Linked DNA regions of Homo sapiens. The protein of the gene in region 2 purifies or fractionates together with the protein of the main gene of each other region. This does not show direct contact. Each region holds a gene or a part of one and is shown on either strand. Other genes may lie near its edges.

What was found.
Region 1: the proteins of CLIC5 (region 2) and NME6 purify together in Homo sapiens (affinity purification with mass spectrometry; one large-scale study listed by BioGRID and IntAct). This does not show direct contact.

The regions. Positions count from the first base shown.
Region 1 is NC_000003.12:48,299,044-48,302,953, forward strand, and holds the start of NME6 (nucleoside diphosphate kinase 6), read right to left. Parts: upstream 2,325-3,910; 5' UTR 2,310-2,324; exon of another isoform or gene 2,270-2,309; coding exon of another isoform or gene 2,253-2,269; exon of another isoform or gene 2,227-2,252; intron 1,592-2,226; coding exon of another isoform or gene 1,484-1,591; intron 1,478-1,483; exon of another isoform or gene 1,388-1,477; intron 1-1,387. UniProt on the Homo sapiens protein: Major role in the synthesis of nucleoside triphosphates other than ATP. The ATP gamma phosphate is transferred to the NDP beta phosphate via a ping-pong mechanism, using a phosphorylated active-site intermediate. Inhibitor of p53-induced apoptosis.
Region 2 is NC_000006.12:46,013,612-46,017,521, reverse strand, and holds the start of CLIC5 (chloride intracellular channel protein 5), read left to right. Parts: upstream 1-1,661; 5' UTR 1,662-1,979; coding exon 1,980-2,042; intron 2,043-3,910. UniProt on the Homo sapiens protein: In the soluble state, catalyzes glutaredoxin-like thiol disulfide exchange reactions with reduced glutathione as electron donor. Can insert into membranes and form non-selective ion channels almost equally permeable to Na(+), K(+) and Cl(-).

The DNA.
Region 1 (3,910 bases), on a different chromosome or scaffold from region 2:
TCTCTATTCTAATATTATGGAGAGATCAGGATCTCCTGTGCCCAAATCAAACCTGTTAATACACTCAGCTGTCCTCAGTGGTAACACTGAGGTCAACACACAACTCCAACATCAGGAACAAGTCATAACCATTTTGCATCTGAAACAGTGCCTGACACAAAGGTGCTTGATCAATTTTATTTACTAAATAAACCTATATAGTCTTATTTCTATTCATCTTTGTATTCCTAATGTCTAGCATGGTGTAAGAGCTCAATATTGTAGAAATGATATAATGGACATAAAAGCATTTTATAAACTGGACTAAGGGAATTTTGAGGTCTTTTCCAATTGTGAAATCCGAGTTATACGTGAGAAATTTATCACCTCTGCAGGAGTAAAGACTTTGTCTCAAAATCTTATCTCAATATTATCTCTCATTTGGCCATGTGTAGTGGCTCACACCTGTAATATCAGTACTTGAGGCCAGGAGTTTGACCTGGGCAACAAAGCAAGACCCTGACTCTACTACATATGTGTGTATGTGTGTGTGTGTATATATATATAATATATATGTGTGTATATATATAAAATCATTTGTCGACAAATACAGAGAAGGCTTCCATTAACATAGGCAGGGACAGAGTCTAGACAACATTCTCATTTATCTTATCCTAAAAACTGTCAATCATGTTAAAGGTGGTATTAGAATCTGGCCCAAGCAAAGAAACTGCCATGGTCGCTCCTATTCATGTCCTTTCTACAGCTTTCAACCTGATTTTCCACTCAAACCATAAAGCCACACCCAATCTAACCAGTACAAGATCAGCTAACCCACTCTCCCTAATGCCACAGGTGGTAACACGTCATTTTCAGCAACTGTCTACAGAGACATCCATGACACCTCCCCTCCCTCACTCTTCATATCCACACGATCACCAACTTCTGGCAATTTTCCCTACCTAATATATCTCAAAACCCATACCATTCTCCCATCCTCAACTGCTACCACCATAACTCTAAGACATCATCATTCCCCTCTGGACATCTTGACAGCCTCCTCTTTGGTCTCCCAGTTTCTGTCCTGCCAACCTCTACAATCTCCACACAGCAGCCAAAGTGAACCACACATGAAAATCTAATCATATGGTTCCCCTCCTTAACCCTTTAAAGGGCACCCTGTTCTTAGAATAAAAACCAAAATCCTTATCACGGCCTCCCAGGCTCTGCATGATCTTGTGGTTCCCCACGTACCTCTCTAGCCTCATCTGGAACCCCACACTCCTTAAGTTTCTCTAGCTCCAACCTCATGGGCCTTTCAGTTTTGAAAGAATTTCTGGCTTGACAGCCTTTGTGTGAGTAGTTTTCGCAGTCCTGAATGTGCTTTCTCTGGTTGCCTCCTGCCCACCTTAGTGATCTTAGCTCACTTCCCGTTACACTTTCTCACAGCTCCTTGCAAGTTCCCTTCAGTTCCGTCTTCACCACCAGAAGGTGTAAGCAGTACCTAGCACACAGCTGGCTCTTAACAGTATCTGAATGAACCAACGAATGCACCTCATCCAGCCATTCCAAGGCCAGGCTGCTAGGGGTTCTCGTGGCAAGAACACGCGGCCTGTAGGGAGGACATGGTTCCTTTACTAACGCAGCTAAGTTGTGGCTGTCTTGACTCTTGGTTTACAACAAACTGACAAGTCGAGAATCCTGTTAGACTTAAAGGTGACTCCATGAGAATTAAAAATTTTAGGCAGGGCGCGGTGTCTCACGCCTGTAATCCCAGCACTTTGAAAGACCGAGGCGGGCGGATCACGAAGTCAGGAGATCAAGACCATCCTGGCCAACATGGTGAAAGCCCGTCTCTACTAAAAATACAAAAAAATTAGCCAGGCATAACGGCGCGCGCCTACAGTCACAGCTACTAGGGAGGCTGAGGCAGGAGCATTACTTGAACTCTGGAGGCGGAGGCTGCAGTGAGCCGAGATCGCGCCACTGCACTCCAGCCTGGCGACAGAACCAGACTCCGTCTCCAAAACAAAAAAAAAGTAAAGCTGTCGGTACACTGCCACCCCAGCACTCGAGGGGGCCACCACTCGCTTCCTGGAGGGCGGCGGCCCAGCCCTGGTCCACCCACGCGCGGCCGGGACCTGCGCCCCTACCCCCGTGGCCACGCCCTCCAGCCCCCCGGGCTCACGGCCTCAACTCTCGACCCAGCCCCCTACTTCTCTAGGCCTGCAACCGCGCAGCCCTCACCCCTCGTACCCGGGGCCTAAGCCCACCCCAGATTCTGGGTCATTCGGAGCCCCAGTGCAGCAGAAGTCCGGCTGCGGGTTCACCTTGTCCTCCGGCACAGGGCCCGGCCACCAGGCGCCACGCTGGATAGCCTGCGGCCCTCGCAGGGTCCTTCAGGCGCTCCCTGGGCAGCCCTGCTCGGGGTCCTAGTCCGGTTGCGCCGCGGCGTGAGGTGAGGTGTGAGTTGCCCTGGAGGGTGGCGGGTTTTCCAGGCGCATGCATTTGCCGCGGACGGGACGAGAGGATGAAGCCGTTCTGGGCGCCGGAACTCGCTTGTGGGAACCGCCCCTCGGAAGCCGGCCTGGGCGCCCTCGGAAGCCGGCCTGGGCGCCCTCGGCGGGAGGGAGTGCTGGGCCGGGTGCTGGCGCAGCGCTACGCAGGGTGGCGGAACCCAGAGGACCGGACGGGCTCGTTCAGGGTGGCGGCCCGGCGGGGGCGATGCCCGCCAGCAGAGACACCGATGGAAACCTTGCCCAGTTATTTTCTTTGCCCAGGGTAGTTCCTGGAACATGGTTGATGCCCAGTATTTGTCAAAAGTACGCGGAGGGCAAAGAACTTAAGCGCTCGATAGCGAAGGCACAGGCCCTTCAAAGTCTTTTGAGCTCTGAGCGATACATTAGCATGAAGGATCGTAGCTAATATGGGGGTTGATGAAGGAGGATCCTTGGCTGGAGCCCAGGTGTGCATAGGGCATGAGGAAAGCAAGTCATAACGGCCTTTCACGTGTCATTAGGAATCTGGGCAGCAGGGTGTGGTTTGGGTTACTCTGGAGTCTATTGACGCAGCCCAGGGTGAGGAGATGAGAACTGGGGGTATTCCTGGTGTGTACTGTGATGTATGGAGAGGATGGGGACAGGGAGAATGGATCGGGGGTCAGCTGTGGCAGGTGACCAGAAACTTGGTGACAGGTTGAATAAAGATGGTTAAAAAAAAAAAAAGTGTTTTGGTTTCTTGGGTTTTTTTTTTTTTTTTTGAGGGAAATCACTGAGAATGAGAAGAATGAAAATAAACGATAACTGTCATCAATGTAAAGACTTACTTGCACATTTAACTGACTTCGGTGTCTGCCTACACAGGTGTTGCCCTCTTGGAAGGTTTATCCCCAACTCATGGCTTCTGTCCCTGCAGCAATAAGAAGCCACTTCCCAATAGTTTCCTGATACCCAGTCACCTTTGGGAACTTACGAGGAAAGTTTTTCCAGTCTCTCCGCAGACCCTTGCATCTCTTCTCTTTTTGTTTAGACCCTTGACCACCACCCCCTATTCTAATCTTAACTCCTCTGCTACTCAGTTCCAATCCTAACCCAAGCCCTAGTCCCTAAATTTATAATCCTTTAATCCTAGACCTGGTCTCTAGATCCTGAGCCCTTGATGCTTATCTTCTAACCTCCTAATCCCAACCTCAAATCCCTAAACCTCAACCCATGAATTCTGACCTGATTCTCAAACCCCAGGCCCCCAACCCTGACTCCAAAAATGACAACCCATTACTTCTCCCTACACGGAATCACTGACGGAGTTGTAGCAACTGAATCTGCAGTAGGCCAAAGGACCCAGTGAGTTAGCCAGCAAACTACTCTAAATAAAAGATATGGTGGATAACAGCAAGCCTAAACAAATCTTCCTCAAAGATGAGCAACACAAG
Region 2 (3,910 bases):
CAAGTCTGTCTGGGTTTAAATCCTGACTTCACCATTTCCTAGCTGAATGACTAGGGATAAGTTACTTAAATACTTCATGTCTCAGTTTCCCCACTTGTAAAATTGGGATCATTATACTATTTGTAAATATTATACAAGTTCACACATGTAAAGTGCTCAACATTTTTGCCTAGCACATAATAAGTATTATTACTTATTTTTTTATTAAGCGATAAATTTTTTAATAAAGCTATTAAACAAATACATGTTTTTAGTAAGGAAGGACATAGCACAAACAGGATTAATTAAAGAGAAGGCAAAGAAGACAAAGAGAATTCCACCAGATTCTGGTGCAAAACATTCAATAATTATTTTTTAAAGAACTGAAGGGTGGGAATGTCTGTTGGTGCAACCACTTTAGAAAACCTATGGCAGTGTTTACACAAGGAGAGCATTCTTATACACTACAACTCAGCAAGTCCACTCCTAAGTATACATCCAAGAGAAAAGTGTCTGTGAATCCAACCAAAAGATGTTTGATAGAGAGAATGTTCGTGACAGAGTAGTCATGATAGTCACCTGCACAAATGTCCATTGACAGAAGAATGAATAAGTAAGTGTGTCGGTGAAAATGGATGATACACAACTACACATAGCACAATGGATGAATCTCACAAACATAGTAATGAGCGAAAGAAGCCAGACACCAACATTCCAGGCAAAAAGATCCTATGCTGCTACAAGCCAGAATAATGGTTACCCTGGGACAGTGGAGACGGGAGAAAAGATGTGGAGAGGAGAGAGCAGGAGGAGCTTCTAGGGCTGTGGCTAACATTTTATTCTTCATCTGGCGCTCGTTACATGGGTGGGTTGGATTGTGAAAATTCATTGAGGCATACACCTAAGATATGTGCATCTTTTCTGTGTTTGCATCCTACTTCACTAAAACAACCAGAAGAGAACGGGAATGAAGTAAGATCAGAAAATAAAGGAAGAAATAGAAAGAAAATGAAAGAAGGGAGAAGAAAAATAAACAAACCCAGAAGGCTGAAAGGCATGGAAGCCGCACCTGACCGGGTTGACTCACCCCTCTGCCCCAGGAGCCACCCCTGCCCTGCCCTGCCCGTCCCCAGCACCCTACTCTCCTTTTGCTTAGCCCAAGGATGGCAAATGCCCCTTTTGGTGGGGGTTCTGAGCATCACTAAGACAGGAAGGGCTTTCCAAGTGGGTAAGGCTGGTAGTGGAGTAACTCGGAGGAGCTGACGCTTTATTAAAGAAACAGAAGACTTGAGAGCCATCTCCTCTCTTCCTTCCCCTTCCCCTTTCCCCTTCCTCTTCCCCTTCCCCTTTCCCCTTCCTCTTCCCCTTCCCCTTTCCCCTTCCTCTTCCCCTTCCCCTTTCCCCTTCCTCTTCCCCTTCCCCTTTCCCCTTCCTCTTCCCCTTCCCCTTCTCCTCGACTCTTTCTGCCTTCGCCTCATTATCCGCCCCCAGGACATCCTCTTGGCCTTGGTGGCTTTGCCAGGACCAGCTCTGTCTCCGCCTCCTGCCCTGCGGGGTCTTGGGGCGGGGGGCCGTGGCCCGGCCCAGGCCCGAGCTGCCGGGGTGTCCCCGCCGCGTCCCCGCCCGGCTGACCCCGCCCTGCAGCCGCCGGCTATTTTGGGCGCGTTGGCGGCGGCGGGATCGCTGACAGTCGCGGATCCTGTGACACCTCCGGGCAGCCCGGCACTTGTTGCTCCCACGACCTGTTGTCATTCCCTTAACCCGGCTTTCCCCGTGGCCCCCCGCCTCCTCCCGGCTTCGCTCCTTTTCATGTGAGCATCTGGGACACTGATCTCTCAGACCCCGCTGCTCGGGCTGGAGAATAGATGGTTTTGTGAAAAATTAAACACCGCCCTGAAGAGGAGCCCCGCTGGGCAGCGGCAGGAGCGCAGAGTGCTGGCCCAGGTGCTGCAGAGGTGGCGCCTCCCCGGCCCGGGACGGTAGCCCCGGGCGCCAACGGCATGACAGACTCGGCGACAGCTAACGGGGACGACAGGGACCCCGAGATCGAGCTCTTTGTGAAGGTAGGTCGGGGTCCAGTCTCCCGCCGCACCTGCCGCGCCTCCCGCCGGGCTCACCCACCAGGGCTCGGGGTGCGCTGGACTCCGGACCCTCCCAGGAGGGCGGCGCGGAGCCCTGTGCTCCCCCGTGGCCTTTCCGCAGGCCAGCGCCCCGCTGCGAGGCTCCTGGGCGGAATGGAGGAAGGCAGGTTCCGGCAGGTGGCCGTCTTCTCGGAGAGTTGATCCGCAGTTTGTCCACCCCCGTCCCCGCCTCCGCTGTCACCGCTGCGAGTCCGAGTCCAGAGCCCAGCCCGGACGCGATTCAGGCTGGTCCTGAAAGACGTCTCCAGGTGTCGGGATGCGGCAGAAACCTGGCTGGACCCGTGAACCTTTCCTTTAAAACGGGAGGAGGGGGAGGAATGGGAGAGAAACGTTATTGACACAATGATCTTTGGCAAAGCGAAAATGACATTTCTTAAAATTCTCTTTCTCTCTTTCGCTCAGAGATCCTAAAATAAAAGCCAAGGAGACAAAAGTGTTTTCTTGCTTGGTGACTTGCAAAGCAGAAAACAAGCACTCCATTCTCCGACGTTATTATTTTTGTCATAATCATGATTTTTCAAGGCAGTATCAAGGAAATGTTAGGCGTTTGGTAGTAGGGAGAGCCTCCCGTTCAACCTGATGCAGACAGGGATGAAGGAGCACAGTGCAAATTAAATGAAGTCACCTTGCTCCTTGGACAGAAACTGCCTAATGTCAGAGCTGCTGTACTTTATTTGCAACCTGTAGGAGGAAGGATGGAGGCGAGGCTGCGGCGGCGTTTCCCGGTCCGCCGGTGTAAGGAGAAAGAAACATTTGATCAGCCCTTGGTGCCGACGCTGCAGAAGTAGGGAAACCTGAGGCTGCGGGAGAGTAGCCTCCAGGGCTGAGCAGAAACAGTCGCCAGGACTTGGGGGAGGGGAAGTCGGGGACTGCCTGGGCGCCAAGACCTTTCACAAAGGGGGAAAACTCTCTCAGTGCAAAGTTTCCCTAGAAATATGCAGATCGCTGAGAAGGGAAGAGTCACTGGTGCCTGTCAGGGGCCTCCTGGCAGAATTTAAAAGGCATAAATATTCCCTGGAATTGGGAAAATGTTATTTTGCCCAAAAGATCCTTCTCTACAAGCTAATTAAATAGATGTTTGCAAAAAGTATGAGATCTACATAAACCTTGATAACAATCTGTGGTCTTTGGTACTTTCTGACTCTTAAAATGTGACTTACTTTACACTTGGTACGTGATCTGTCTCCGTTGTCCCAGCCTACCACAAAGGTTTGTTAAATTTCTTCTGCTGGGTTTTACATTCTTTGTGTTTATTTTTCAAGCTTACACCTGACATTTAGTGACACTTGCTTTCTTCAGCCTGTTCTCTTCCCACTGTGGCCCCTGTGTGCTCCTTTGGTTTCTGGGACTCCCCCCACCCCCACCCCAGGCTGGATTTCCAGGTCCTTTGGCAGACCCAGGTAATAAAGGAGGTCATTTCTCGTCTGATGCTGGGTAGTGTTGGACCTTAGGGCAGCAAGGGGGTGTTCTGAACCCCAGCATCCAGGCCTGGGCCCTAGGGGTGAATAGGGAGAGCTTTAACAAAGCGATGAGTCTTGCTGCTCTCCTTGAAGAAAGCGATTCTAGGACTTACTCAGATTCCTTGAGAGTGGTAGTTTCAAGGTGTCAAGTTTCTGAAAGATATTTGAAACACAAATAGGTTCTTTAGAACCAAAGGAGCCCTTTGCCCCACTCCTAGGTGTGGAGACCGATTCTACCTGCACCTTTGGAATTTTCTTGTTGGCAGTGTTGGAGAGTCTCTCCATTTATATAAAAACCTTACTGCACAATTTGCAGCGTTCCCCAAATAA